3 linked regions of the Homo sapiens genome follow. The protein of the gene in region 3 purifies or fractionates together with the protein of the main gene of each other region. This does not show direct contact. Each region holds a gene or a part of one and is shown on either strand. Other genes may lie near its edges.

Region 1 (7,023 bases), on a different chromosome or scaffold from region 3:
CGCCCCACGGTTCCCCAAGTCTATTCCTGACCTACATGAAGGGCTCCCCAAGGCCTGGGCTCCCCCGCCGGGGACCTCATCTGGCATTTGCCAAAGACCACCTGCTTGGGAGCCCTGCTCTACTGCAGATCTGAGACACTCATGTCCTCAGTGTCCCTGCATGGGCACCTCTAACTCAACATGGCCACCTCCCAGCCTGCCTTGTCCTTGGTCTCCCTAATCTCGGTAAGGATAGCCCTGTTCCTCCAGGTACGCAGGTTAAAAATCCTAGAGGCTAGGCCGGGCGCGGTGGCTCACGCCTGTAATCCCAGCACTTTGGGAGGCCGAGGCGGGCGGATCACGAGGTCAGGAGTTCGAAAACATCCTGGCTAACACGGTGAAACCCCGTCTCTACTAAAATACAAAAAATTAACCGGGCATGGTGGCACATGCCTGTAGTCCCAGCTACTCAGGAGGTTGAGGCTGGAGGATCGCTTGAACCCAGGAGGCGGAGGTTGCAGTGAGCCGAGATCGTGCTACTGCACTCCAGCCTGGGCAACAGAGTGAGACTCCATCTCAAAAAAAACAAAACAACAACAACAAAAAAACCCTGAGGCTGGCAGGCACCTGTAATCCCAGCTACTTGGGAGGCTGAAGCACTAGAATTGCTTGAACCCGGGAGGCAGGGGTTGCAGTGAGCTGAGATCACGCCACTGCATTCCAGCCTTGGTGACAGAGCAAGACTCTGTCTCAAAAATGAACTAAAACCCAAAACCCTAGAGGCACCCTCACCTTTGTCCTTTACCCACATATTCACCTGGGTACCTTCAGCACATCCTACTGCTCCCACATTTTTTTGTAATGCAGTTTTGCTCTGTCACCCAGGCTGCAGTGCAGTGGCAAACCACAGCTCAAACTCCTGAGCTCAAGTGATCCTCCTGCCTCAGCCTCCCAAATAGTTGGGACTATAGTACTCAGTCACCAAGCCTGGCCTGACCTCCACTTTTATTTAATTAATTAATTTATTTATTTATTTATTTTTGAGATGGAATTTCGCTCTTGTTGCCTAGGCTGAAGTGCAATGGCACGATCTCGGCTCACAGCAACCTCTGCCTCCCAGGTTCAAGCGATTCTCCTGCCTCAGCCCCCCGAGTAGCTGGGATTACAGGCACACACCACCATGCCCGGCTAATTTTGTATTTTCAGTAGAGATGAGGTTTCTCCATGTTAGGCTGGTCTCAAACTTCCAACCTCAGGTGATCTGCCCACCTCAGCCTCCCAAAGTGCTGGGATTACAGGCGTGAGCCACTGCGCCCGGCCTCCACTTTTAAAGTCTGGCAGAATCTGCCCACTTCTCTCCTCCTCCCTGGCCCCACCCTCTCCTGATCTAGGATGCGGTGACTGGAGGGGCTTGAGTCCCAGTGGAGAGGAGTCGGCCTTACCTAGAGCATTGTGGGCTGGTTCCCTGGGGAGGGGGCCTCCAGCCACCTGGCAGCTCAGGGACCCTACCTTAATCTTAGTGAAGAACTGCCGGAAGCAGGCCCGGGGGTCCACCTTTAGGCTCTTGGCCAGCTCCAGGATAAATTGCATGACGATTGTCTGGTGGGCCACCTGCTCCATGAGTGCACATTTCTGCCAGGAAGAACAGGCACAGCGTCACCAAGTGGCGGCCTCATGGCAGCGCCTTTTCACAGTCCCGGGGAAAGCTCCACTCACCTCCTCCACCTCTAGGTCAATGCACCAAATGACCAGGTAATTGGCTGTCTCCTCGCACACCAGGTGGACGTTGTCTGACAGGTACTTTTGGCTGTCATCCCAGCGGCGAAGCATGCCTGTGGGAAGATGCTGGCAAGGTGCTGGAGGGCCCTGGAGGCAAAGGGCCTGCCTCGACCTTGCCCCCCATAACCCACAAGCCCCACTCACCAAAGTGCTTGATCTGTTTCTCGTATTTTTCCACGAAGGTCTTGTGTTTCTGCTCCCTCACCTCCTCTGAGTCCTCCTCCGTCTTCTCGGGCTTGGTATTTACCATGCTCTGTGGTAGGGTGAGAGGGGGAGTGGGCTGGGGCAAGGCTGCGGAGCGCCTCGAGCGCGGCCGGGCGGGCCGTGGTCGCAGCGCCCATCCCATCCACGGCGGAGGTGGTGACGAAGCCATGAGCATCAAGGTGGCGGGAGCGTGGGCATGGGCCTTGGGGCAGATCAGAGGAGGGGACCGGTGGGGTGTTTCATCCGCCCGGCCCCCCAAGCCTGTCCCCCCTCCCACGTGGCCCCCGTCCATCCCTCAGCTCCCCGCCCCCCACCACACTCTTCAACTACACCACCGGGGTCCTCCCCTGACCAGGCATTGGGTGCGCATGCGTCCTGGTTGCAGGCTCTCTGGCTGCGCATGCGCACTGCCCGCCCCGCCCGCCCCGCACACCTTGCTGAAGCCGTCTTTGCTGAGCGTGTCCACGTTCCAGGGCATGCTCTTCTCCTTCTTGCGCATCTCCTCCAGCTTCTGCTCCCAGCTCCGCTCCTCCTTGCGCAGCTGCTGTGCCTCGGCCTGCAGGCGCTCCAGCTCTGCCTTGCCGCCCTCGGCCACCTCCAGCTCCTTCAGTTTCCTCTGGCACTCGGCCACCTTGCGCTTGCACTCGCGGCAGCCCCTGTCCAGTTCCTCCTTCTCCTTCTGGAACTGCTCCATGCGTTCCACCCGGGCCTGCGGGCAGGGACGGCCTATCAACTCTGGGGAGTCGTCTGTCCCTTACCCCCGCCCCATACCCAATCCCTGCACCGGAGATGGCCCCAGGAAAAAGTACGCGTCCACCTCCCGTGCCCTGGTCTCCCAGCTTCCGCCCCTGCGCCCACAGGTGCCAGCGCACACCCAAGTGGGGTCAGGTCCCTCCGTCCTCTGCTCAGAACCCTGGCGGCTCCCATCTCACAGCAGAACCCAAGTTGTCACCACAGCCTACATGGGCCCTACACAATCTGCCTCGGCACCTCCCCTGGTAACTCTTCCTTCCAGCTACACCAGCCCCTCACTTTTCTCACCTTTTCTTGAGGCCATTTTTTTTGTTTAAGAAAACAAAACAAAACAAAACAAAAAACAGGGTCTCACTCTGTCGTCCAGGTCAGAGTGCAGTGGCCCAATGATGACATACTGCAGCCTCGACCTCCCTGGGCTCAGGCGATCCTCCCACCTCAGTCTCCCAAGTAGCTGGGACTACAGGTGTGCACCAGCACGCCCAGCTAATTTTTGTATTTTCAGTAAAGATGGGGTTTGCCATGTTGCCCAGGCTGGTCTTGAAGTCCTGGGTTCAAGCGATCCTTCCCTCTCGGCCTCCCAAAGTGCTGGGACTACAGGCGGGAGCTACTGCACTCTGCGGAGCCCACTTTTTTCTTGAACCTCAAGGCCTTCGCACTGGCTGTTCCAACTACTTGGAATGCTTTTCCTTCAGAGCCCCCCACAGCTGACTCCATGGCACCCGTGCCATCTGGGCTCCATGTTGCCTTAGCGAGGACCCCTTCCCCAACCACCTTCCTGATGATGGCAACTTCCCGCTGCCCCTGTCTGGAATTCCCTGCCTCCTCAACATCAGCAACCACTAACATCATATGACAATTATTTATCACGTTTTGGGTACTGCCCCCCTCCAATGAATGAAGCCCTGCTCTCTAAATATGGGAACGTGTTCGCCATTTTGTTCCCAGAACCAGGAACGTGGCCTGGTGCAAAGCACGGGCTCAGCAAATGCTTGTTTTTTTTTTTGTTTTTATTTTGTTCAGTTTTGTTTGAACAAGGTCTTGTTGTCATGCAGACTAGAGTGCAGTGGTGTGATAATGGCTCACTGCAGCCTTGATCTCCCAGGCTCAACCTGCCTCAACCCCAAGTAGCTGGGACTACAGGTGCACACAAACCACCAAGCCTGGCTTTTTTTTTTTTTTTTTTTTTTTGAGACGGAGTCGCCCAGGCTGGAGTGCAGTGGCGTGATCTTGGCTCACTGCAACCTCTGCCTCCCGTGTTCAAGCAATTTTCCTGCCTCAGCCTCCTTAGTAGCTGGGATTACAGGCACGCGCCACCACGCCTGGGTAATTTTGTATTTTTAATAGAGACGGGGTTTCTCCATGTTGGCTGGTCTTGAACTCCTGACCTCAAGTGATCCACCCACCTTGGCCTCCCAAAGTGCTGGGATTACAGGCATGAGCCACTGCACCAGGGCCCCTTCTAGATGTTTCTTTGTTCCACCCATAACCTTGCCCCAGGATCACTGCCAAGGCCCTCTTAGCTCTGTCTCCAGCCCAGCATGCCCTCCTGAGCCCCAGCTTGGTGTCTACCTGCTTCCCGCTCACCCCAGCCCCAGATGTCACTCCCCAGGCACTCCTCTTTCTCCTTATAACAGTGCCTCATCTCCTCAGGCTCCTGGTCCCCGCCTCACTCCCTGTCTCCCTCAGACCTCCATCTGGGCCCCATCGGATTGTACAGGCCTCTCCTGAGACCCCTGCGTGGCTCCACCATCACCTCTCCTGAACCTCAGTGGAGGCTGCTCTATCCAGAGCCACTAATCAAACCCTGAAACCCTGAAACGTGCCACCACCTTCAATTGCTGACCCTCTCCAATCCAGGCACAGCTGCCACCAGGGAGGCCTGTGAAGCCCATGCATTTGACCACGTGACCAGAGTCCTCCCCACTACATCTTGGGGGGTCTGAATTCAGATGGGACTTCTGATCCTGGCATCCTGGTCCTGGGTCCCAGGCAGATACTGGCCCTCATCGTTCCCCGAAAGTACGGGCTCTGTCTTGCCTCTTGGCCTCTGCATGTGCGGTTCCCTTACCTGCTTTTGCACCCAAAACTCAGCTTCAACAGAGCCTTCCCCAAATGCTCCCTGCCTGAGGCACCACTGATCCCTAAAGGACCTCCTGTGACCATCTGACGATGTGGTGAGGGTGCTGGAGGACAGCCTTGGGGCAACGGCCCCTGGGTCCTAGCCCACAGCCACCATGTACCGGCTGGGTATCCCGGGCCATCCCCTAACCTCCTGTAACCTCAGTTTCCTCATCTGTCAAACAGTCAACAATGCTGACTGCACAAGCTCATATTGGAAGAAACTAAGGAGATGATTAGAGTAAAATGTCCCGAGCCATGTGGGCCCTCAGCACGCACCCTTCCTGTACTGGCCAGGGTCATTACCATCTGTGCAAGAGAACAATCTCTCTCTCTCTCTGGGGACCACTCTGGGGCCTCAAAAAGGAAATGTCCTTCAAATGCTTAGTTTAATTTCTGGCCCAGAGTACACGCTCAATAACTGGGAGTGGTTGTTACTACATGGTCACAGCACCCGGCTGTGCCACTGACGGGAGATGGAACTTTGGCCATGTCACTGAAACCTTTCCCAGCCTTGGTCTTCCCCTCTGTGAAATGGAGTCTCACAGGATCGCCGTGAGAACTGAATGACTAACTCTATGGAAAATGCTTCCAAAACAGCCCTCAGTAGGTGTGTCCCACTGTTACCATCTCCGTCCTTGTCACTGCCACCTGAATGGTCTGCTGACTCATTCCTGTGCCTTATCTGAGGCTGTGTCCCCAGGTTCTAAGGCAGGGCCAGGCAGAGCTGGCCCCTACTCTAATACCCCAGGGGACTGACACAGCCAGCCTGAGCCTCGGATTCCCCTATATGTATAAGGGGTCAAGAAGGCCTACGTGGTCGAGCGTGGTGGCTCACTCCTGTAATCCCAACACTTTGGGAGGCCGAAGCGGGTGGATCACCTGAGGTCAGGAGTTTGAAACCAGCCTGGCCAACATGGTGAAACCCCGTCTCTCCTAAGAACACAAAAATTAGCCAGGCGTGGTGGCAGGCGCCTGCAATCCCAGCTACTCCAGAGGCTGAGGCAGAATCGCTTGAACCCGAGGCAGAAGTTGTAGTGAGCTGAGATCGCCCCACTGCACTCCAGCCTGGGCGACAGAGCATGACCCTGTCTGAAAAAAAAAAAAAAAAAAAAAAAAAGCTATACCTCATGAGATAAACAGCAGCTGCAGGCTGGGCACAGTGACCCATGCCTATAATCCTAGCACTTTGGGAGGCCGAGGTGGGAGGATCACTTGAGCTCAGGAATTTGAGACCAGCCTAGGCAACATAGTGAGATTCCATCTCTTAAAAAAAAAAAGTTGCTGGGTGTGGTGGCTCATGCCTGTAATCCCAACACTTTGGGAGGCCAGGCGGGCAGATCATGAGGTCAGGAGTTCGGGACCAGCCTGGCCAACATGGTGAAACCCCATCTCTACTTAAAAAATACAAAAATTAGCCGGGCATGGTGGCGCGCACCTGTAGTCCCAGCTACTCGGGAGGCTGAGGCAGGAGAATTGCTTGAACCTGGGAGGTGGAGGTTACAGTGAGCCGAGATGGCACCACTGCACTCCTGTCTGGGCAACAGAGTGAGACTCCGTCTTAAAAAAAAAAAAAAAAAAAAAAAAAGCAGCTGTGGCCTCTCCAACTCCCTTTCTCCACGATGGGCCTGTGTCACCCTGGAGCCTGCCCACCACCCTGCAATCCGCTGCTGGGCTGCCACCAGTCTCCCCTGTGTCCTCTGAACAACTGCCAGGGAGGCCGCAGCTAAAAAAGGCCTCTTGGAGTTGGCGGGGGCGGCAGCCTGCCCAGCCTGGGCTTTACACCTCCTATCGGGGAGGGGCTGTAGCAGGCTGGGCAGGGGAGAAGCCACCCCAGCAAGCAGGGCCCACAGATGTCACTACCCTCCTGCCTTACAGTTAGGGAAACTGAGGCTCACAGAATCTCAATGTCATACAACTCATTAGAAGAAACCACTAACAGCAGCTGTCTCTGGGCAGGAGAGCCGGCGAGCTGGGGCTGAGAAAAGGGATTCATTTGTCCGCTTCTGGAAACTTTGAAATTTTTTTTTTTAAGAGACAAGGTCTTAGGCCAGGCTTGGTGGCTCACACCTACAATCCCAGCACTTTGTGAGGCTGAGGCAGGTGGATTGCCTGAGCTCAGCAGTTTGAGACCAGCCTGGGCAACATGGTGAAACCCTGTCTCTACCAAAAAGTACAAAAATCAAC
Region 2 (7,280 bases), on a different chromosome or scaffold from region 3:
GGGCAGTTGCAGGACTGAAGTGGGCCATGAGTACAGGTTCTGCCTCTCTGCTTTGATCCTTGCTCACCAAAGTCTCAGCTTTCAGTTAGAATGTCCCCACTACTCAGGGATCACCAGTCACAGAGCCACACTGCTATTGCAAAATGAATCCCAAGCTACCCTGGGCCACAGACAGACCCAGACAGCCTGGGTCAGTCATCCTGCTAGAAACCTCGTGGGATCCCAAATGTGAGGAATATAAATGAATTTCAGGATCTTATTTTTGCAAACCCCTCCACATCTTAGAAAGTACCAGTCACTGATGGCTGGTCGCACTGGCTCACGCCTGTAATCCTAGCACTTTGGGAGGCCGAGGTGGGTTGATCACTTGAGGTCAGGAGTTCGAGACCAGCCTGGCCAACATGGTGAAACTCTGCCTCTACTAAAAATACAAAAATTAGCTGGGCAAGGTGGCGTGTGCCTGTAATATCAGCTACTTGGGAGGCTGAGGCACGAGAATCGCTTGAAACCGGGAGACAGAGGTTGCAGTAAGCCAAGATCGTGCCACTGCACTCCAGCCTGGGTGACAGAGCAAAACTCTGTCTCAAAAAAAAAAGAAAGTACCAGTCACTGTGCTGTTTCTCTTTATACTTTTCTGCATCTAGGAAGGGCTTTCACAAAGTGCTGTATAATCCCTTTTCTTCATTATCACATGTTGGCCCATCTCTGAAGATATGGCTGTTAACAAGCTTGCAGCAGGAAGGAAAAAAAAATTGCCCTTAGTCCTTTGCACATGCTTTCATACCTTTTACATACAATTCTATCCTTTATGGCTACTTGGGTGACATAAAAATAGTTGCCTGAATCTGTGTAGGGATTTCTCCTCACACTCAAATGAGGCCTGAACAAACAGCGTGGCAGAGCCAGGCCCACTTCTTTTTTTTTTTTTTTTTTTTTTTTTTTCAAATAACAGAGTTAGGGTCTGGCTACGCTCCCCACACTGGTCTCGAACTCCTGGCCTCAAGGGATCCTCAAGGCCTCCCAAAGTGGTGGGAATACATGCATGAGCCACTGTGCCCAGCCCAGGCCCACTTTTCTCCTGACACATGACAACAAGTTCATCACAACACATAGTTAAATATAAAGGCACAATGAGAATGGGTCATTAAGCTAGCAAGAGCTGCTTTCCACTCAGAAGCGCTCTTCAACAACTCCTCTCAACCAGAGAACAGTTCGCCAGTGAGAGAGGACTGCGACACCAGTTCCACCTCCTCCCGTCTACTCTGACAGAGGAGGCTGTTCCCTACAATCCTCCCTAGACAGCAGGTGGCTGGTCCCCAGGCTCTCCACGCTGTTGGCCTCTTGGCATCCTCCCATTGATGCGGGCAGCTGGCCTCAGCCCTGCACAGCCTACTGACACCGATGTCCAGGGGAAGCAACAGGTTTTCACCAGGAGGAAGACTCAGTCCTAAAAGGAGAGGTAACCAGCAAAGATGTCCACTTGCCCCTTCAGGTCTACCCTTTGGCTACACCCCCAAGCAGCTGCAGAACAGTCTTTCAAGACTCATTGAAGATCATCTTACACAATGCCTGCATGAATGTGGTCCTGGACAGTTTCAACCAATATCTCAGTTTTTGGTCCAGCAAGACTTTGAGGACAGGTTCTTTTCCAGAGTCCCCAGAACATCTGTTCTGCCCAAATGCTGAAGGAAGAAACAGGCTGCAAACAGGAATGGGAAATTAGAAAAGACCATTCCTACCCTAAAGCTACTTGAGGGTTACTCTCAGCTCCCCGGAGAAACTGCAGGCCATGGCCGAGAAGCTCCTCTTAATGTCCCACTGCACAATTCCTCCCTGCTGGGGTCCCAGAGTCTCCACCATTTATTTCCAACTGGAGGTGGGAAGCTGTCGGCCCCTTCAATCCTAAGCCAAACCATGGTTCTCTCTACCTAATGCCCTAAAGCGAAGCAACTGCAGAGCTAGGAGGAAGCTCTGCACGGAGAAAGAGAACAGTGCAGAGTAAGCAAAAAGTTTATCAGGAAGAGCTGCTCCGTCAAACTTCAAAAGCAAAAGCTTTGCCCTGATACGACGTCTGAGCTAATCGGGAAGGTATCAAAAGGAGACCTCCTCCTCTCTCCACAAGCACCAGGCCCTCATCTTTGGCCCTCCTACCCACCACAGGAGAGCCCTGGGCCCCCCGAACCCCCCATTCTATGCAGTCTCGTGCCCTCTGAGCTTCTTCGGCTTCGCTCCTCCAAAGCCCTCTCAAATGCTCCCCAGGCCCCGCCTCGCCTCTCCCATCCCACTTCGGCCGCCCCCGCTTGGCTTCCCCTCGCCCACTAATGACCCCCTACAGGCGCCCCCTCTTTTCACCACGTTTACAGTTCCCTCGCTCCTGCCGTTCCCCCCTCTGCTCCTACACACACCCCCAGTCCTCACTCTATTCTCCTAATCCCGGTTAACCCCTCAGTACCCACGGGCTCCGTTAACCCCTTTGTCCCCATTCCCAACTTGAGCCTTAACTCCTTCCCTCGCAGCAAGAAGCCCTCCTTCTGAGTGCTTTAACCATTCTCTACCCCTCCTCCCACCTCCCACAAATTACTTCGCCCTCGGCGCTTTAACCCTTTCCAGCCCGCGCCTGTCCGTCTCCCCGCGGCCCAGAGCATACCAGTACTTGACGATAGCGGTAACCTGGAGCGGGTTCGGCTGGTCAGGGTAAAGGCGGCGGCACTCTCCGTAGATGGCGTGCAGTCCCGGGGGAAAGAGCGAAGCGAAGGCCGGGGGGGCAGTCGGGCCAGGGGCCGGGGGCGCGGTGGGGCCGGGGGCGCCGCTAGGCCGCAGCTCCGCCATCGGGGTGCGTAGGGCAGGCACTGGGGGAACTGGAGAGGGCAAACGACGGGGAGAGCACTGACGGGCCAGCGGGCGGACTCGGTGGGTGAGACTCCCCGAGGCGATGGGGGCTGCAGCGAGGTCTAGCTCCGCGCCTGCGCACGGCGCACTGTCCGCCCAGGCTGTCGCCGCCGCCGAGTCTGCCAGAGGGTGCCTCGGGGCGGCGGGGCGCTAAGGGGGGCGGGGCGCCGGCGCACCCTATCCAAGCACCCATTGGCTAATGTCTGTGCCAGTCACAGGCAGGGAAGGTGTGACTTGACAATAGGCCCCGCCTCCCCTCCCTGTGTTGGGAGTGTCCCAAGGCTCTTGGTCTCCCCCTAGTGTTAGGAGGAACCCAAGTTTAGAGATGCTGAGCACCCTCTGAGGTGCTAAGGTCCCACGAAAGCAGCGAGAAGTGCGCCAACAAAGGATTTGTTACTGTTTTGCTGACGCGCTGCTAACTAGGATTTAAACATAAATCTGACAATGGATTGATTCATTCATCCATGGGGCGTTAGTATTAATAGATGATAATAAATCTAATGTTTTCTAGGGCTATTGACAAAAAGGTCCCTGAAATTTCAAGGGGGCTGGGGGAGAACATAATCCAGAGAAAAAAATGCACTGGGCTCATTTGAAAGCAGTGACACATAACCTCTCTTCACCTCCATTTTCTCAACCATCAGTGTCAATTCTAGCTCGTTATGAAAATTAAAGAGATACTCGAGCAGTTTCTGAAACCCTTAGATGATGTTTTAATGACCAAAAGATTACCTATACCAGTAGTTCCAATTGCCAATCTTCGGATCAATGTTAGCCTGTTATGCAGAAAAAAAGAAAATGCAAAAGGCAACGACAATGTACAGGTTTTTAAACTTAAAGCTAATTTTATGCAATTTAAATTGTTTTCCTTTGTTGTAGGAATATGTCCTCTCGCGTACGTGTGTTAACATTTCCTTTTTGTTAGAGTGTGAGGTGCTAGGAGATGTTTATTAAAGTCTTACAGACCCAAATAAAAACATGAGAACCTTATATTGTCTAAGGGAACGTCGGGGGGAGTGGCAGGGCTGATCTGCAAAATCCAAACATCCATGAATTACGACCAATCCAAACCGAACTACAGACAAGTACTCGAGAAGACTACATACCTCAGCATGCACTGCGAACTCCTTCAAAGGGACTACAGATCCAGGCATGCAACATGACCATCAACCTGTGTCTCTGGCTGTTTAATCTAGGGAGACCACAAATCCCAGGGTACTGCGCATTGGAAATGCGACTCCCAATCTTAAACTAGGCGGGCAACAAAGCAAGCTAGATCGCTAACCCAGGCGCAAAGCTTGCTGGGGATTGTAGTTCTTCAGAGGCGAGGTCGGGCCGCTCCCTCGCCGCCCTGAACCGGCGGCTAGACTGCGCATGCGTGTCAGTGGCGCTAGCGGCGGACCCGGCTGGGCAGTTCCTTCCCCAGAAGGAGAGATTCCTCTGCCATGGAGTCCTACGATGTGATCGCCAACCAGCCTGTCGTGATCGACAACGTGAGTTGCGTCTTTCCTATCTATAAGGGGACTTGGGCTCTCCTCCTCGAAAGGATCGCTTCCCGGGGTTCAGCCTGAGCCGCCGGCTCTTTGTCACTGGCCCGGCCTGTCAGGCGCGTTCAGCCACCGCCGCCTCCTTCCTCCCCTTATCACATAGTCCGCAGGCAAGGCGGCCAGCCAGCAAAAGTGGGATGGAGAACTCTGGAGTGGATAAAGGAAAGAGTTATAGTCCAAGCCAGTCCTTGGGCCCTTGGCTCTAGGGGCCTTAACCGCTGTGTGAGATTCCCGTCGCCCGCCCTCTCCCCCATTTCCGATCGCTCTATTGGTTGCTCTGGCTGTCCATCTTAGCCAATGATACCGCCTCTTAGCCTTGCCGGATGAGGCTAGGCCTCTGCGGTGATTGGCTCACGCCCCTGCCATTCTTCCTTGCCGCCATATTGTTTTCCCTCTTGAAGGGGCGGGGCAGTGCTCCAGGGCTGTGGGGATTGGCTTCCGGGACTCTGGGTGGTGGGGCCTAGAGGCGAGTGCCCGCCCGCGGGTGGAGAACGGCTAAGTTTTCCTTCGGTCTCAGCCGGCGCTGCGGCTTGGTGGTGTGGATCTGGGTGGGGCCCGAGAATCTGGTGCCAGAAACCGCTGTAGGATGTCAGCTATTACTGTGATTATAAATTACAAAGTTGGTAAAGGTCGAGAAGAAAGGAGAGTGACAAAGGAAGCAGAGAGGTTGTCCTCCTCTTTGGAACGCCTAGTTCTTACGGGGAAAAAATTACCAAACTTAATATTTGCCTGGCGCTCTAGCGCTTCCAGGGCGTTTTCACATACATTCGAGTTGGATCCTCACAAAAACTGGACGCATAGTTTAAAAGGAACTTTGATCTTCGTGTTACCGATGAGAAAACTGAAGCGCGAAGACGTAACGTGAGCCCAAGGTCACATAGCAGAGGTGCCCTAAATCCAGTACTTTATCCGTCATCCCTTTTGCCAGCACCACCATGCAGAAGCATCAATATTGACCAATAGAAAGAATCTAAATACTGCTCTTATTTTGGGGGGAAAGGAGAAAATTGTAAAACGACTGCATTTCTGCCTTCGATTCAAAGCTTTGGTCCCACAGAGATTGATCCCTGTCTGTGTCCCTTGTAGGTCCCTCCATTGAGGCAAAACTACCAGTTCCCTCTGTTGTAAGCTGACTCTGTCAGATTCCCTTTGTTGATTCAGCTCTTGGGACCTTAGGCATATTACAATGTTCTCGTTTAAGCTTCAGCTCTGTTAGGTAGATAGGAATTACTATCCCCAGTGTATGCAGGGATGTTAAATAACAGATTTCAAACCATCCAGTTTAGGAATTGAGGAGCCAGTCATCAGACTAAGATCCAGTTCCAAGTTGCTTGCTTTTTCCAATATATTTTTGTTGTTGTTTTCATTAAATTTTCCTTCTCTCCATGGGTATTTTGTTTTTATTATTCCCCCTTAGAAAGGGGCAGGATTGAGCTCAATGAGACAGCTCATTTTTTTTTTCTTTTTTTTTTTTGGAGACAGGGTCTCGCTCTGTTGCTGAGTCTGAAATGCAGTGGCGCGATCACAGCTCACTGCAGCCTCAACCTCCTGGGCTCAAGTGATCCTCCCGCTTAAGCCTCCCGAGTAGCTGGGGCTGCAGGCACGCGCCACCACCCCTGGCTAATTTTTGTATTTTTTGTAGGAAGGGTTTCACCATGTTGTCCAGGCTGGTCTCAAACTCCTGGGCTGTTGCGATTCTCCTACCTTGGCCTCCCAAAGTGCTGGGATTATAGGCCTGAGCCACCGTGCCTGGCAGAGACGCCTCTTTTTTTGGTGTGGGGGGGTGGAGGGAACAGGATCTCGCTTTGTCACCCAGGCTGGAGTGCAATTGTGCGATCTCAGCTCACTGCAGCCTCCGCCTCCAGGTTCAAGAGATTCTCCAGCCTAGACTCCCAAGTAGCTGGGATTACAGATGTGCACCACCACGCCTGGCTAATTTTTGTTTGTTTGTTTGTTTGTTTGTTTGTTTGTTTGTTTTTGAGACGGAGTCTCACTGTCGCCCAGGCTGGAGTGCAGTGGCGCGATCTCGGCTCACTGCAAGCTCCGCCTCCCGGGTTCACGCCATTCTCCTGCCTCAGCCTCCCGAGTAGCTGGGACTACAGGCGCCCGTCACCTCGCCCGGCTAATTTTTTGTATTTTTAGTAGAGATGGGGTTTCACCGTGTTAGCCAGGATGGTCTCGATCTCCTGACCTCGTGATCCGCCCACCTCGGCCTCCCAAAGTGCTGGTATTACAGGCGTCAGCCACCGCGCCCGGCCTAATTTTTGTATTTTTAGTAGAGATGGGGTTTCACCATATTGGCCAGACTTGTCCTGAACTCCTGACCTCAAATGATCCACCCGCCTTGGCCTCCCAAAGTGCTGGGATTACAAGCATGAGCCACCACACCCAGCCCAGATACTTCATTTTTGAGAGGATCTTTTTGTCTCCCTCACTAGACTATTAAATCCTTGTGGAAAAAGATGATATTCTCCCACAGGTTTAGTGGTGTTGGGAAAAAAAATTTAAGAAAGATGATATTCCTTTAGTCTCACTTCACCCACTTCTCTCCACACACACACAGTATACCTAGGGTCTGGCACCTCTGTGTGCTCAATAAATGTTTTTTCATTGGATTGATGGGTGATTGGATGAATGACTGAATATCTCTATCAAAGTAACAAAGATATTCCTAAATAAAGAAAAGATGGGGAGTTTTCTCTAGTTAGTTACTGCAGATAATTGAGTAGGACTTTTTGTTCTTGATGTTGATTTTCAGAGAGCACTACGATTTCTGTCTTTAGCCAGGCTCTTTGTGCTTCTTCTGCCTTTTTCTTAGTTGTAAAAAGGAAAAATATATAGAAA
Region 3 (7,023 bases):
CATATTCTATCCTATGAAGATAAAGTTGATCATGGTTTTTTTTTTTTTTTTTTTTTTTTTTTTTTTTGAGACAGAGTCTTGCTCTGTCACCAGGCTGGAGTGCAGTGGTGCGATCTCAGCTCACTGCAACCTCTGCCTCCTGGGTTCAAGCAATTCCACTGCCTCAGCCTCCCCAGTAGCTGGGACTATAGGCGTGCACCACCACACCCAGCTAATTTTTTGTATTTTAGTAGAGACGGGGTTTCACCATGTTGGCCAGGATGCTCTCGATCTCCTGACCTCGTGATCCACCTGCCTCGGCCTCCCAAAGTGCTGGGATTACAGGCATGAGCCACCGCGCCTGGCCACTAAGTTGATCATGTTTTATTTAGGTTTTTGGTTTCTAGGATGGAGGGAAGACCTGGAGTATGTTCAATTATTGGATAGTCTTATATGTGATTTTTTTTAATTGCAGTAAAATGTACATAATATTTACAATTTTAACTATTTGTGAGTGTGCAGTCTAGTGACAGTAAGTATATTAATAATGTGAGACTATCACCAGAACTCATTTCCAGAATTTTTTCATTATTCAAAACAGAAGCTGTATACCCTTAAGTGATAACTCCCCATCCCTGTTTCTGCCCAGCCAATGATAACCTCTATTTTCTGTGTCAGTGAATTTGACTATTCTAGATACCTCATATGAGTAGAATAATATTATATTTTGTCCTTTCATGTGTGTGTGTGAGGTCTCACTCTGTCACCTCTGCTGGAGTACAGTGGCACAATCATAACTCACTGCAGCCTCAAACTCCCGGGCTCTGATTATTCTCCCACCTCAGCCTACCAAGTAGGTGGGACTGCAAGTGTGTGCCACTATGCCTGGCTACTTTTTTTTTTTTTTTTTTTTTTTTTTTTTTGAGACAGAGTCTCACTCTGTCACCCAGGCTGGAGTGCAGTGGTGCAATCTTGACTCACTGCAACCTTTATCTCCCAGGTTCAGGTGATTCTTATGCCTTAACCTCCCTAGTAGCTGGGATTACAGACGTGTGCTACCATGCCTGGTGAATTTTTTTGTATTTTTAGTAGAGACGGAGTTTCACCATGTTGGCCAGGCTGGTCTTAAACTCCTGGCCTCATGTGATCTGCCCACCTCAACCTAATTTTTTTGTATATTTTGTAGAATCAGGGTTTTGCCATGTTGCCCAGGCTGGTCTCAAACTCCTGGGTTCAAGAGATCCATCTGCTTCAGCCTCCCATAGTGCTGGGGTTACAGGTGTGAGCCACTGCGTCCAGCCTATATTTTCATTTAGCGTAATGTCTTCAAAGTTCATCTATGTCATAGCATGTATTAGAATTTCATTTCTTTTGTATGTATATATCATATTTTGTTTATCCATTCATCTGTTGATGGACATTTTGAGTTGTTTCCAACCTTTTGGCCATTGTGAGTAATGCCGTTATGAACATAGGTGTACAAAATCTGCTTGAGTCCTTGCTTTTATTTTATTTTGTGTATTTTTTTTTTCCAAGATGGAGTCTTTGCCCTGTCACCCAGGCTGGAGTGCAGTGGAACGATCACAGCTCACTGCAACTTCCACCTCCCTGGTTCAAGCAGTTCTCCTGCCTCAGCCTCCCAAGTAGCTGGGATTACAGGCACATGCTACCATGCCCGGCTAATTTTTGTATTTTTAGTAGAGATGGGGTTTCAACATGTTGGCCAGGCTGCTCTCGAACTCCTGACCTCGTGATCTGCTGGCCTCGGCCTCCCGAAGTACTGGGATTACAGGCGTGAGCTACTGCGCCCGGCCCCTGCTTTTAATTCTTTTGGGTATATATTCAGAAGTAGAATTGCTTGATTACATGATAATTCTACATTTAATTTTTTGAGGAACTGCCATGCTATTATCCATAGAATGCCTCTGCACCCTTTTACATTCCCACCAGCAATGCACAAACACTTGTTATTTCTTATAATGGCTATCCTAATGGGTATAAAGAAGTATCTCTTGCAATTTTCATATGCATTTCCATAATGATTACTTTGTTGAGCATCTTTTGATGTGCTTATGGGCCATTTGTATATCTTCTTTGGAGAAATGTCTATTCATGTCCCTTTTGATTGTTATTGTTGTTGTTACTGAGTTGTAGGAGTTCCTTATATATTCTGATATTAATCTCTCATCAAATATAAGACTTGCAAATGTTTTCTCCCATTTTGTGGGTTGCCTTTTCATTCCCTTAATGGTGTTCTTTGATGCACAAAAGTTTTCCATTTTGATGAAGACCAATTTATCTGTTTTTTTCTTTCGTTACCTGTGCTTTTGGTGGCATTATCCAAATCCAGTGTCATGAATTTTTTCCCTTATCTTTTCTTCTAAGAGTTTTATAGTTTTAGCTCTTACATTTAGAACTTTGATATATTTTGAATAGTTTTTAATGTTGTCAATATACTTGACAGGACAATGGAAACTTGGTGGACAGTGAAATGAAATATTTGGGCAGTCCCATTACTACTGTTCCAAAATTGGATAAAAATCCAAACCTAGGAGAAGACCAGGCAGAAGAGATTTCAGATGAATTAATGGAGTTTTCCCTGAAAGATCAAGAAGCAAAGGTAAAGTGTTCTGTGGTAGTATCTTTGTATTCTTCATATTCCTTCATTCTGTTAAAAGAAGAACTAGACAAATTAAACTTAGGAGAGTTTATTTGAGCAAAAAAATAACTAGTGAATCCAGCAACCCTCATAGCCAGAACATGTTCAGTAAAACTCCAGTTTGCCATGTGGTCAGGCAGTATTATGGACAGAAAATGGAAATGAAGTACAGAAAATAGAAGTGAGGTACAGAGACAGCCCAGTTGGTTGCAGCCTTGAGTTTGCCTTATTTGAACATGGTTTAAACAGTTGATTGCTTGTGGTTGACTGAAGCTCAGCTGCTGTGCTTTCCTGAGACTCAGCTTTTTGATACAAAAGTATACTTCTAAATTAGGCTTTCAGTTAGTTTAAGTACTAAGTTAGGTTGCAACTTGGTATATAAAGACTCAAGTACAGAGGCATCCCCAGGCCAAATTTAGTTTAATTAAGAATTCATTCTTCTTTTTTTTGTTGTTTGTTTTTTTTAAGACAGATTCTCGCTCTGTCGCCTAGGCTGGAGTGCAGTGGCGCCATCTTGGCTCACTGCGACCTCCTCTTCCCAGGTTCAAGCGATTCTCCTGCCTCAGCCTCTCGAGTAGCTGGGATTACAGGTGTGCACCACCACACCCGGGTAATTTTTAGTATTTTTAGTAGAGACAGGGTTTCACCATGTTGGCCAGGCTGGTCTTAAACTCCTGGCCTCAGGTGATCTACCCACCTCAGGCTTCCAAAGTGCTGGGATTGCAAGCGTGAGCCACCATGCCCAGCCAACAATTCATTCTTGAATAAACATTTTATGCCTGATATGTATGAGTCACTCTACTAAATGCTAGAGCTACAGAGATCAACAAGATGTGATAACCTATCTTTATTTATTTATTTATTTTTGAGATGGAGTCTTGCTGTGTCACCTAGGCTGGAGTGCAGTGGTGGTATCTCAGCTCACTGCAACCTCCGTCTCCTGGGTTTAAGTGATTCTCTTGCCTCAGCCTCCCAAAGCACGCCATCATGCCTGGCTAATTTTTTGTAATTTTAGTAGAGACGGGGTTTTGCCATGTTGGCCAGACTGGTCTCGAACTCCTGACCTCAAGTGATCTGCCCGCCTTGGCCTCCCAAAGAGCTGGGATTACAGGCATGAGCCACCACGCCTGGCGTAACCTATCTTTAGACTGTAGGGTTACCTGACTGATAGGTTATCAGGTCACTACAGAAATCTTCTTACTGCTGGTGAACAGGTTCCAGTCAATAGTTTGAGTGGATCACCATCAAAGTAATCTAGGATAAGTAATGTCTCCAGGATAATGGTAATGTATAAATGTATAGAATATACCTAACATTACTTTTCAGGTATTTTATAATACAGTCTTTTGTTTCCTTTTTTCTTTCCCATATCACTGATAGATATACCTGAAGCATGTGGGTTATAGCCTATATGCTGATATGCCAAAGATAGTTTCTGAGGCATTTAGCTTTTTTTGGTTTTTGGTTTTTGGTTTTTTTTTTTTTTTTTTTTTTTTTAGATAGACAGGGTCTTTCTCTGTAGCCCAGGCTGGGGTACGTGGCACAATTAAAGTTCACTGCAGCCTCAATCTCCCCAGGCTCTGGCAGTCCTCCCACCTCAGCCTCCAAGTAGCTGGGACTATAGGCACATGCCATCATACCTGGCTAATTTTTTGTATTTTTTGTAGCGATGTGGTTTCACAATATTGCCCAGGCTAGTCTCAAACTCCTGGACTCAAGTGATTCACACACCTTGGCCTCCCAAAGTGCTGGGATTACAGGCATGAGCTACCATGCCTGGCCTACATTTAGCATTTCTAAATCAGCTTTGTTGCTTTGAAACAAGTAGGGCTATGGGTTTGTCTTTAAAATTTATTCATTTCACAAGGCCAGTATGGTATAGTGGAGTTAGAACAGTTGCATTCTAGTCCTCATGCTTTTATTTTTTTTAATTATTTAATTAATTAGATAGGGTCTTGCTCTGCTCTGTCACCCAGACTGGAGTGCAGTGTTGAACTCCTGGGCTCAAGTAATCCTCCCACCTCAGCCTCCTGAGTAGCTAGGACTATAGGTGCATACCACCATGCCCAGCTAATTTTTAAAATTTTTTGTAGAGATGGGGTCTTGATGTGTTGCCCAAGCTGGTTTGGAACTCCTGCGCTCCAGCAATCCTCTTGCCTTTGTTGCGGGATCTTTAGGGTGTTGCTTTTCTGGCCAGAAACCTTTCTGCCCAGTGGTGCCTTTGCCTGAGTTGTTGTCCTGCGTCGAGGTAAGCAGACAAGTAGAGGGTTAGCAAGACGAAGAGAAGCTTTATTGAGTGTTAGAACAGCTCAGAGGAGACCCACAGGGGGCAGCTCCTCTCTGTAGGCAGTTTGTCTTATCCCGTATTCAGCTCTCAGCAGAGAGGAGGCCCTGGAGTGGGTGGCTCCTCTCTGCAGGCAGGTCCTCCCTGTTGATTTCCCAGCTTTCAGCAGACAGCATAGCTCCTCTCTCCTCTTTGGTTGTCTGATCTTTTCTCCATCCTCTACCCTGCTCTGGCTGAGCCTGGGCCTTTTATGGACCTCAGAGGGGAGAAAGTGCTTCCTGATTGGTTCATGGACTGTGAGAAAAGGCAGCACAAATCCCCATCCAGTGGGTGGGACTAGCAGCCCGGTCCCCAGCCTTTAAGCCCTCCCCGTCCTGAAGGTGGGGACTTACAGGAACCTCCCTTCTACCCAGGAGCCTGTCTGTCTCTCTCAGCAGTCCATGGCACCAGGCTGCTCACACCAAGGTGCACCTAAAGGCCAGCACTGACCACCCTCAGTCCCTACTTGGCTTCCCCTCTTTTGCTTCTCCGTGCCCAAATTCTAGAGGGGGTCAAGGTGGCAGGGTGCTGCCCTGAGGGTGCACACACAGATCCGCCCCCGGACTGTAACAGCACCTGGACTTGCCCCAACCCCACTCTGAGATTGGAGTGGGTGCCAAGAGCAGAGAGAAGTGGGGATATGGGGGTGGTGGGGAGGCCTTCCTGGGCCCCCAAGGGTGCAGGCTGCAGAGACTATTAGGTCCTGCACCTGGGAGGGCAGCTGCAGCTGCACCCGGGAAGGCAGGGATCCTGCCTGCTCCCGGCCCCCACAAGACCACAGGGAGGCTCGGATCTGCAGCCACAACTTGGGCGGCTGCAAGCCCACCCAGGAGGGCAGGGCTTCTGCCTGCTCCGTGGAACAGGAGGCCCAGGTTAACAGCTGCAGTTTGTGTAGCTCCAGCAGCACCAGGGGAGCTCCTGCCCCAACTCAGAAGGGGAAGGGCTCCCGCTAGCTCCATGGATCATGCAGCCCTATCCATACCTCTCTGCTGCAGCCAGTTTGATGACAGCAGCAAGCCCTCTGGAGTTGCAGCTGCCAACACCTTGGCCTCTCAAAGTGCTGGAATTACAAGTGTGAGCCACCGTATCCAGCCTCATTCTTTTATTTACTTGGTGGTATGACTGTTCACAAGACAACCACTTGACCTCAGTTTTTAATTTATAAAATGGAGAGCATGATAAAACAACTACCTCCTTAATAGGCTTGTTGTAAATAAAATATTAAAAGCAGTTTATGTCCTCATCACATACACACAAATGGTAACTGTGTGATGAAGGATGTGTTAATGAATTTCATTGTGGTAATCCTCATGTAATATATACGTAAATCATTATATTGTACTCCTTAAGTATATACAAATTTTATCATTTATACCTCCATAAAATAGAAAAAAAAATTTAAAGAGCAGTTTGTAATACAGTAGTCCTCTGTTATCCACAGAGAATACATTCTGAGACCCCCCAGTGGATGCCTAAAATTGCAGACAGTACTGAACCCTATATATACCATGCTTTTCCCTATGCATATGTACCTGTGATGGAGTTTTTTACTTAGGCATAGTAAGAGATTAACAATAATAACTAATAATAAAATAGAACAATTACAACAACATACTATAATAAAAATTATAGGAGGCTGGGCGTGGTGGTTTATGCCTGTAATCCCAGCACACTGGGAGGCCGAAGCGGGTGGTCAGGAGTTTGAGAGCTGCCTGGCCAACATGGTGAAACTCCATCTCTACTAAAAATACAAAAATTAGCTGGGCGTGGTGGTGAGCATCTGTAACCCCAGCTACTGGGCTGGCTGAGGCAGTAGAATCGCTTGAACTTAAACCCAGGTGGCAGAGGCTGCAGTGAGCCGAGATCGCACCGCTGTACTCCAGCCTGGGCAACAGAGTGAGACTCTAACTCAAAAAAAAAAAAAAAAAAAAGTGCTGGCTGGGCATGGTGAGTCAGGCCTGTAATCCCAGCACTTTAGGAGGTTGAGATGGGCAGATCACCTGAAGCCAGGAGTTTGAGACCAGCTTGGCCAACATGGTGAAACCCTGTCTCTATTAAAAAT

What was found.
Region 1: the proteins of CDC25C (region 3) and CDC37 purify together in Homo sapiens (affinity purification with mass spectrometry; 3 studies listed by BioGRID and IntAct, with this or other methods). This does not show direct contact.
Region 2: the proteins of CDC25C (region 3) and SUFU purify together in Homo sapiens (affinity purification with mass spectrometry; 5 studies listed by BioGRID and IntAct, with this or other methods). This does not show direct contact.

The regions. Positions count from the first base shown.
Region 1 is NC_000019.10:10,393,533-10,400,555, forward strand, and holds part of CDC37 (hsp90 co-chaperone Cdc37), read right to left. Parts: intron 2,672-7,023; coding exon 2,396-2,671; intron 2,012-2,395; coding exon 1,903-2,011; intron 1,812-1,902; coding exon 1,696-1,811; intron 1,612-1,695; coding exon 1,489-1,611; intron 1-1,488. UniProt on the Homo sapiens protein: Co-chaperone that binds to numerous kinases and promotes their interaction with the Hsp90 complex, resulting in stabilization and promotion of their activity. Inhibits HSP90AA1 ATPase activity.
Region 2 is NC_000010.11:102,499,702-102,506,981, reverse strand, and holds the start of SUFU (suppressor of fused homolog), read right to left. Parts: upstream 3,011-7,280; 5' UTR 2,830-3,010; coding exon 2,648-2,829; intron 1,700-2,647; exon of another isoform or gene 1,667-1,699; coding exon of another isoform or gene 1,563-1,666; intron 1-1,562. Other genes in the region: ACTR1A (alpha-centractin), read left to right, coding at 4,335-4,382. UniProt on the Homo sapiens protein: Negative regulator in the hedgehog/smoothened signaling pathway. Down-regulates GLI1-mediated transactivation of target genes. Down-regulates GLI2-mediated transactivation of target genes. Part of a corepressor complex that acts on DNA-bound GLI1.
Region 3 is NC_000005.10:138,314,795-138,321,817, reverse strand, and holds part of CDC25C (M-phase inducer phosphatase 3), read left to right. Parts: intron 1-2,443; coding exon 2,444-2,599; intron 2,600-7,023. UniProt on the Homo sapiens protein: Functions as a dosage-dependent inducer in mitotic control. Tyrosine protein phosphatase required for progression of the cell cycle. When phosphorylated, highly effective in activating G2 cells into prophase.